Regions from separate parts of the Homo sapiens genome. Here region 2 is linked to region 1. A link means that fine-mapping ties the variant in region 1 to the expression of a gene that starts in the linked region. Tissue or cell type: T cells. Region 1 holds a variant in brackets; the other region holds the start of a gene. All regions are shown on one strand. Distances are from middle to middle.

What was found. PIP is the estimated chance that this variant, and not a neighbour inherited with it, causes the effect.
Region 2: it holds the start of VSIG4, and the variant in region 1 is fine-mapped to the expression of VSIG4 in T cells (TOPMed, PIP 0.94).

What each region holds. Positions count from the first base shown.
Region 1 is chrX:65,943,924-65,949,893 of GRCh38, reverse strand. No RefSeq gene overlaps it. Among named protein-coding and RNA genes, the nearest start is that of MIR223HG, 69 kb to the left of the region's middle. The variant G/A (reference allele first, on the strand shown) is at 2,734.
Region 2 is chrX:66,037,924-66,041,923 of GRCh38, reverse strand. It overlaps VSIG4 (V-set and immunoglobulin domain containing 4), which reads left to right and starts at 1,844. Exons shown (of 8, transcript NM_007268.3): 1 at 1,844-1,980. The coding sequence starts at 1,926.

The DNA.
Region 1 (5,970 bases):
ATCAAATGCTTAACACTACGTGAGGAAGAGAGGGATAGACAACACTAAAGTAATCCAGTAAGTCACTAAACAAGCCAAAAGCATTAACAAACTCTAGAGGGTGGACCACCAGTACTCAGAGTTACTACAAAATATTACTTAAAACCCACGTGTCTAGCCTTTTGGCTTCCCTGGGCCACACTGGAAGAAGAAAAATTGTCTTTGCTAACATGAACACTAATGATTGCTCATGAGAAAAAGGAAAGTCAGTGCATAATTTGTGTGATCTACACCACCATAGATAAGCAAAAAATCCCCGAATTCAAAGGGCTGGACACCCGTGAAAATGATCTGGCTGAACACAGTGGCTCACACCTGTCATCCCAGCATATAGTGAGACCCTATCTCTATCTCTAAAAATAAAAATAAAAATATTCTGGTTTTTAACATAAAATTATGAGGAATACAAAGAAGAAATTATAATCTGTACACTAAAAAAGCAACTGCTAATGAGAAGAATCAGATGTTGGATTTATCAGAATGACTTTAAAGTAGCAATTATAAACATGCTCATAGAACTGAAGAAACCATGATTACAGAAGTAAAACAAGATATGATAATGTCATATCAAACTGAGAATATCAGCAGAAAGACAGAAATATTTTAAGATAACTTGCATGTTAATCATAGCACTATTTGCAATAACAAAGATATGATATCATTCTGTGTCCATCAGTCAATGCTTGGATTAAAAATGTGGTATATCTGCACAATCGAATACTGTTCAGCCATAAGAAGAATGAACTCATGTCTTTTGCAGCAGCATGCATAGAAGTGGAAGCCATTCTCCTGAGTGAAATAACTGAGATACAGAAAGACAAATACAATATGTTCGCATTTGAAAGTAAAAGCTAAATAAGGAGTACACATGGATGTACAGTGTGGGATAACAGACAATGGAAACTTGGAAAAATAGAAGTGGGGGGCTTGGAGTGGATAAGAAATTACTTAATGTTACAATGTACATTATTCAGGTGATGGATACCCTAAAAGCCCTAACTTCACTACTATGTAATCCCTCCATGTAATGAAACTATACTTGCATCCTGTAAATTTATACAAAAAAAAAGAAGAGCCTAATGAAAGCACTGAAGTTGAAAAGCAAAATAATTAAAATTTAAAATCCACTGGAGGAGACATTGATTGAACTGCCAGAAGAAGGAATAAGTGAACTTGAAGATAGAGTGATAGATATGCAAGCCAAAGAACAGAGAGAAAAAACAATAGAGAAAAATGAACACTGTCAGAGTAATGTGGGTCATCATTAAGTGCACCAACATATGTGTAATGTCAGTATCAGAAGAAGAAAAGGGGAAGAAGCAGAAAAACATATGTGAAGAAATAATGTCTTAAAACCTCACAAGGTTATCAAAAAACAGCATACACATTCAGGATGTTTAATGAACTTCAAATAGGATAAACACAAAGAGATCTACAAATAAATACATCATCATAGTAAAACTTCTGAAAGTCAAATTCAAGAAGAAAATTCTGAAAGCAACAAGAGAAAAACAGCTTATTATTTAGAAGGGAACTCTAATAGTATTAACAGCTGACTCCTCAGAAGAAACTATGGAGATCAATAAGGCAGTGGGAAAGCATTGAAATTATTCCGAAAAAAATTCTATCCACCAGGCATTCTATAGCCAACCAAACTATCATTCAAACATTAATAGAAATGGAAACTAGAAAAGCAAAAACTAGAAAAATTTGTTGCTAGCAAATCTGCCTTATAGAAAATAGTAAAGGAAATCTTCAGGATGAACACCAGTAATCCCATTTGGTAATTCAAATCCACACAAAAAAAGAAAGAGCACTGGTAAAGGAAATTTTGTAACTACAAAAGACAGTGTAAATGCATAGGTTTTGTATTTTTTTCTTCATTTGATTTAAAAAGCAATTGTGTACGATAATATGTATGTAATGTATTTTTGGGCCTTTAACTTATAGAAATGTAATATATATGTATTATATTTGTCACTAACAGCACAAAGGAGGTTGGCAAAAGTAAAGCTGTGCTGGGCTAAAGAAATAATTACCAATGATAAAATAATAATCATAACAATATGTTACCGGGTTTGTAGCATTAATTAATGTCATACATAGAACAATAATCCCACAAAATGAGGAAAAGATAATAGAGCTATCTATAAGTAGCATTTCTGAATTATGCTAGTATAAGTTTGAAGTGGATTCTATAAGTTAATATTTATATGGCATACCCTAAAGCAACACTTACAAATTCTTCAAAAACATATAGCAAAAAAAAAAAATTTAATTTAAAATGCTACATTAGAAAATATTTAGTTGAGTTGTCTTCACTGCTTCATGTCTTCTGTTAAAGGAGGCCCAGGTGATTCTGTCACAGGTTCTATTGCTCTGTGATCAGCAGGTACTCAGAGACACATAGGGGGATGCTGGGGCCCTTCAGAAGCTGGAAAACGGTTTCGCTGTCTCTAAGCCACACCTAATCACCTGTCTGGAGCAAAGTAAAGAGACCTGGAATGTAACAATAGAGAAGACAGTAGCTGTACATCCAGGATTCAAGATGGTCAACTAGAAACAGCCAGGAGAAACATCTCCCACTGAGAGACTGGGATATCAGAAAGACTGGCACACTTCAAGCAGATCTTTGGAGGGAAGGCATTAAGAATGGATGCGGGGGAGGATATAGACACTGGGCCAATGGGAGAA[G/A]AAGTTGGGAACCCTGCAGGGGGCTGAGGAGTACTGGGACTCATTCTTGGCTCCCAGAGACTCCTAAGAAAGGGGTGAGTTGAACAGGCAAGGAGTGGCCCACTCTCACTACACACCTCTGGAATCCTATCAGCAGGAGACCTCATGACCCCAGTGGACACTTGAGCTGGTAAAGAAAGCTGCTTTAGAGAGTGTCAGGGCAAGACTCCAGACTGTATGACATGATGATCATCCCGAAGACACATAGTCATCAAATTCTCCAAGGTTGAAATGGAAGAAAAAATGTTAAAGGCAGCTAGAGAGAAGGGGCGGGTCACCTACAAAAACAATACCATTAGGCTAACAGCTGATCTTTCAACAGAAACTCTAGAAACTGGAAAAGATTGGGGGCCCATATTTATCATTCCTAAAGAAAATTAATTCAAACCAATAATTTTATATCCAGCCAAATTAAGCTTCATAAGTGAAAAAGAAATAAGATACTTTCCATACAAGCAAATGCTAAGGAAATTCATTACTATCAGACCTGCCTTACAAGAGACCCTTAAGGGAGTGTTAAACACACTTCAGTACATAGACCATTGACACTACAAAACAACTACAAAATCAAGTCTGCATAATAACCAGCTAACAACATGACAGTATCAAATCTGCAAATATCAATATTAACCTTGAATGTAGATGAGCTAAATGCCTCAATTAAAAGACACTGAGTAGCAAGTTGGATCAAGAAGCAAAACCCAAATCTATGCTGTCTTTAAGAGATCCATCACACATGTAATGACATCCATATCTTAAAGTAAAGGGATAGAGAAAAATTGACCAAGCAAATGAAAAACAGAAAAAAGCAGGGGTTGCTATTCTAATTTCAGACAAAATAGAGTTGAAACCAACAATGATCCAAAAAGACAAAGACAGGCATTCCATAATGGTAAAGGGTTCAATTCAACAAGAAGATCTAACTATCTTAAATATGTATGCACCTAACATAGAAGAAGCTAGGTTCATAAAACAAGTTCTAAGAGGCCTGCAAAGAGACTTAGATAACCACACAATAATAATAGGAGACTTCAACACTCCACTGACATTATTAGATTATCATTGAAATGGAAAACTGAAAAAGATATTCTAAACTTACACTCAACACTTGATTAACTGGACCTAACAGACATATGACAGAACACTCCACCCAACAAGAATAGAATATACATTCTTCTCCTCTGCACATGACAAACACTCTAAAATCAACCATACAATTAGCCATAAAACAATTCTCAGCAAAATCAAAAACACTCAAATCATACCAACCACACTCTCAGTCAACAGTGCAATAAAAATTAAAATCAATACTAAGAAGATTGCTCAAAATGATACAATTACATGAAAATTAAACAATCTGCTTCTGAATGACTTTTGAGTAAAAAATGAAATTAACTAGAAAATCAAGAAATTCTTTGACATTTGGATTTTGCACCTTGATCCAACTTGCCACGTAGTGTCTTTTAATTGAGGCAAATTCTTTGAATGAGAACAAAGATGCAACATACCAGAATCTCTCAAACAAAGATAAAGCAGTGTTAAGAGGAAAATGTATGGCATGAAACTCCCACATCAAAAAGTTGGAAAGATCTCAAATTAACAACTTAACATCACTCCTACAAGAACTAGAAACACAAGATCAAACCAACCCCAAAGTTAGCAGAAGACAAGAAGTAACCAAAATCAGAGCACAACTGAATGAAATTGAATTGTGAAAAACCATACAAAAGCTCGACAAACCACAAGTTGGTTCTTGGAAGGAATAAATAGGATTGATATGCTGCTAGCTAGACTAATAAAGAAGAAAAGGGAGAAGATCCGAATAAACACAATTAGAAACGACAAAGAGGGTATTACCACTGACCCCACAGAAATACAAAAAAACCTCAGAGACTAGTATGAACACCTCTATGCACAGAAACTAGACATCGTAAAAGAAATTGATAAATTCCTGATAACATTCACCATTTCAAGATTAAACCACCAGCTGTATAAAGAAGACCTGGCACCATTCCTACTCCAAACTGCTCCAAAAACTTGAAGAAGAAGGACTCCTCCCTAACTCATTCTATGAGTCCAGCATCATGCTGACATCAAAACCTGGCAGAGACACAACCAAAAAGGAAAACTTCAGGACAGTACCCTTGATGAACATAGATGCAAAAATCCTGAACAAAATACTGGCAAACCAAATCCAGCATCACATCAAATGGTTAATACACCAGGCTTTATCCCTGGAATGGTTCAACATACACAAATCAATAAATGTAATTCATTACATAAGAGAACTAAAAACAAAGTCTACATAATCATCTCAATGGATGCAGAAAAGGGTTTTGATAAAATTCAACATCCCTTCATGTTAAAAATCCTCAACAAACTAGACATTGAAGGAACAAACATACCTTGAAAAAATTAGAGCCTTCTATGACAAACCCACAGCCAACATCATACTGAATGGAAGCATTCTCCTTGATAACCAGAACAAGACAAGGATTCCTACTGTCACAACTCCTGTTCAACATAGTACTGGAAGTTCTAGCCAGAGCAATTGGGCAAGAGAAAGAAATAAAAGGCATCAAAATAGGAAGAAAGATCATCGATATTGTTTGGCTGTGTCCTCACCCAAATCTCATCTCGAATTGTAGTTCCCATAATCCCCATGTGTTGTGGGAGGCACCTGGTGGGAGGTAATTTAATGATGGGGGCGGTTACTCCCATGCTGATCATGCTGTTCTTGTGCTAATGAGTGACTTCTCTTGAGGTCTGATGGTTTTAATGGGGCTTCCCCCTTCACTTGGCTCTCATACCTCTTCCTGCCGCCCTGTGAAGAGGGATGTGTTTGCTTCCCCTTCCGCCATGACTGTAAGTTTCCTGAGATCTCCCCAGCCATGCTGAACTGTGAGTTAATTAAGCCTCTTTTCTTTGTAAATTACTCAGTCTCAGGTAAGTCTTTATTAGCAGCATGATAATGGACTAATACAATAGTCAAACTATCTCTCTTCACAGATGATGTCATTCTGTATCTAGAAAACTTGACAGTCTTTGCCCAAAAGCTCCAAGATCTGATAAACAACTTTAGTAAAGTTTCAGAATACAAAATCAATGTACAATAATCAGTAGCATTTCTATACACCAACAACATCCAGGCTGAGTGCCAAATTAAGAAAAGTCTCTTTCACAACAGCCACAAAAAGA
Region 2 (4,000 bases), 93 kb before region 1:
TTATATAGTTGTTATTGTATGTATAGTATAGTTTGATTTTTATAAATCTGAAAAGATACAAGCATCAAGTATAATTATGTTCATGTTACAATTAGGGAAGCTGAGGTTCAGAGAGATTTGACTTGTTCAAGATCTCAGAATGAAGTAGACACAGAGCCAGGCTTATCTCCAGGTTTCTGACTTCTCATCCAATTCTTTTACTAATCAAGAGGGCTACTGAGCCTACTGCAAGACTGGAAGTCTTTCCCAGCCTTGAAGTAATGTTGTGCATACTCCCCAGGACATTTATTTATCTTCAGATCCAGGAGGTCCTAATAAAATGCAAGAGGTAGCACAAAACACACAATCACCTGGCCAGGCAGAAATTTACATCTGTCCAGTGGGCTTTTTAGCGGGGAAGGGGAGGGGTGTGTGTGTGTGTATGTGTGTGCGTGTGTGTGTGTGTGTGTGTGTGTGTGTCTGTGCGGTGGTGGTGGTGTAGTGGTGATAGGGTGTTGGTTGAAAAATATCAAAGGAGGGTTCTGTGAAGTTCAGGGTTTCCTGAGTGAGGACCCGGTGGGAAAAAATGGCTGAAATTTCCAGTGAGATGGAATGAGTGCAGTACTCAAAAAACAAGGAACAACCAGCCAAGGGGGATTGGGCCCTAGAGGCAGAGGTGATTGATAGAATTCCATGTAATAATGTGTCCTGAAATGCTGGAATGTCTCCTTAGCCCGTGCACAGCTCCAAATCATCTGCATGCAGCCACCCCTTGGCAAGTATGTTTCTTTATATTCCCACTCCCCATCTCTGCACAAACTCCTCCCTCCCCTGACCAAGTCCTTTCCTATCCCTCCAATCAAAGAGTAAACTAAGCTTAGCTGTTACTTACAGTGCAGTATGAATTTTTGGGATGTATTTGTGCTTTTGAAAGTGCTTATTGTTTCAAAGCTTAGTAGACAAAGCGCAGTGCCAAACCTAGTTAGACTGCTGATGAAATTACAGTCACTCTGGGGCCTGTGAAGAGGAGCAATTTCTGGAGCAGTTGAGCTTTGCTAGGAGGCATAATATTACTCTCTTGTAGGTCAAGGGCCTGTACCAATTGGAAGTCAATGAAAAATTCAACCTAATACAGCATACCACTAATGGGCTGCTGCACTGGAGGCTAGGCTTAAATTTCCCTTAAAAGAAGTAAAAAATAAATTCCTTATGAAAAAGCATGGAGAACATTAATGAAAATGAATTCTCCCTTACCATCAGAGAGGTGGAGCCATTGTAGAAAGTGATTCAAAGAGCTTCCCCAATATGAGATATGAGGCATATTCACCCATAACAGCCTTATCCATTGGCTTGTCAATTATTCAAGCTTTGATGTGTAGAAAGCCCTTTAATACACTAAACTCTTGTACTCTTAAGCCCAAAAGCACCCCGGGCCCAACACCCTGTCCAGTTGCATAGGCTGCACAGGCAAGGGTTAACAGTACAACTAATGAAAATTGGGTAGGTCAGCAAAGTTGATCTCTTCTCCCTGGGCTCACCACAAAGGAAAACACCGCCATACTGGAGTGGGAAGACTCATCCCAAAGGTCGCCCCCACAACCTCTGAATCTTGTGGAGGAGACTCAAAATAAATACAGCCTAGGAGATCAAAGACCAGAAAGCCCCATTGGCTCCAAGGAAAGTCAAGTCAATACCCTAGCAGGGGGAAGAATTGCTTCACTCATCCTGGAACCTCCAACCCCAAGGAGGTGGGGGAAGGGGGGCACCCCACATGACCTGTACTGAAATAGGGAAGGAAGGGGAATGTGTGATGGGACTAGGAGTTTGAGTGAGAGATATAGGGAAGGAAGGGAAGTAAGCAGTCACAGACGCTGGCGGCCACCAGAAGTTTGAGCCTCTTTGGTAGCAGGAGGCTGGAAGAAAGGACAGAAGTAGCTCTGGCTGTGATGGGGATCTTACTGGGCCTGCTACTCCTGGGGCACCTAACAGTGGACACTTATGGTAAGGCAGAAAGGGGGGCCTGGCTGCCATTGCTGGCTTAGGCAAAAGGCTAGAGGGTTGGTGTTTAATGTCTACTATGGAAAGCCTATTCCTACTGGGCAGGTGAGTCTTCTCAGCCAAACTCTGCAGGCTCTCTCAGCCTTGAGCAAAACGGATGGATGTAGTTGAAGGCTGCTGAAGAAGCCAGAAGGCAAGTTTGGGCAGAAATTGAAAAAGGATTTTTCTCTTGGAAAACATCTGCATTATTTTCTAGGGCTTGTATCTCAGGGGCATCAAGAAGGTTCCCAATGACATCCGAATCTTTCCTCCATCTGCTGTCTCTCATCTAAAATTCTACAATTGGACTTAACCACTCTGCTTCCAAGCTTTGGTCTCTGTTAAAATATACAGCCCCCGAAGAAGGAGTGTTTTCTAAGAGTTGGATAGGACTATAGAAGTAACCTATACCACCCTTCATTGTCATGAATAAGTGCTCAGAAACATCCAGTAGTGATTGAGATTTCACTGTTCACTACCTCCCCAGACCATCTAGTCCATCCAGGAGCAGCTCCAACTGTTAGAAAGTTCTTATTTGTGTTGAACTAAATCCAGTTCCCTCTGACTTCCATCCAAAAACCCCAGCTTTGCTTCTTGGGGCTACACAGAACATAGATGCTTCCTTGCCCTGTGATAGCCCTTCAAAGCCCTGAGGACAAGTACTATGTCTCCTTGACTCTTCTCTCCTCCAAGCTGAACAGCCCCAGCTTTTTCAACTGGTCTTCATAGGACTTGGTTTCTTACCCATTCCTGGGATAACTCACTTCCCTATAGACATGGCTCAATTTGTCTGGGCTATTTATGGGCTGGATACAAATCCCAAAGGAGGATGGACTATTCCATAGTGGCATTATTTCCTTGGAGCTTGGGAAGCTCTATCCTCATCTACACTCCTGAGAAGTGAGATGGATTTTCAGGAAACTCAACCTGGGTAACAGCTAAGTGAGATCCAATATAGGGTAAAGGGGGATTTTGCTGCTTCCCTATCATCCCTAGAGAAAAAGGCTGGATAGGTGTTAGCTTGGTGTCACTTGTTAGGTCAGAAAGAATCCAGCTTTCCGTAGCTGACTCTGATTAGGTTACCCTATCCTGGGGCTCTGTGACCCATCACACTCTGGAACCTCAGAGTTAGAAAAGACTCTGAATTAAGTCAACCAAGAGAAAAAATAATTTGCCCCCAAGCCAAAGAGCATTAGTGGCAGAGTTAATGCTCCTGAAAAAACATTTTTCTTTCTATAACTACCACATTTCCATTCTCTAGCAGGTTTTATAATGTATCTCTCTACCTTCTCCAAGTCTGTTGGTTTGAGCTAGGGCTTAAGCCTGGGGCTTGAGGGAGCATTTTAGAAATGTTAAATTTAAATCCTTTGTTTGTGTGTGTGTATGTGTGTGTGCATTCATGTGTGTGTGTGTGTGTGTGTGTGTGAGAGAGAGAGAGAGCACTCATGTGTCTTGTTCCTTCCCCAGCCTATGAGCTTTTCCAGACCTGGAAGCAGGCCTTCCATTTGTACACAGGATCTTATACTATAGACCTCAGGCTCAGGTTATGCTGAGCTGCAAATAATACCTTCCCTCTCCCTGGACCTCATTGTTCCTAGCCCATCTGTACAGTGAGGAGGTTGACTTGACTGGTCTTAAAGGGGTTTCTCAGCTGGACAACTCTGTGGGACTGCAGCTTCACTGCTAAAAACCCTGTAGCGGCCAGAGTAAGCTGCTAGCCTCTTCCTGTGGGGCTAAGAGATATGTCAAGATAATCAAAATTTAAAAAATTTCTAATATTCACATTTTATATACATTTTAAACATTTCAGAAACATTTTATAAACATCTATTATATAAGTTAATCCTCCATCCAGGAGGCATTCCAGGAAAGGGAGAGAAGCCAGTCATGTGGGGGAATGGGATAGAGATATGGAAAATGTCAACCTCTTTGTGATGATGGGAGGAAGGGGATTCAGAAAGAGACCTAGAATGGGTCTTATAAA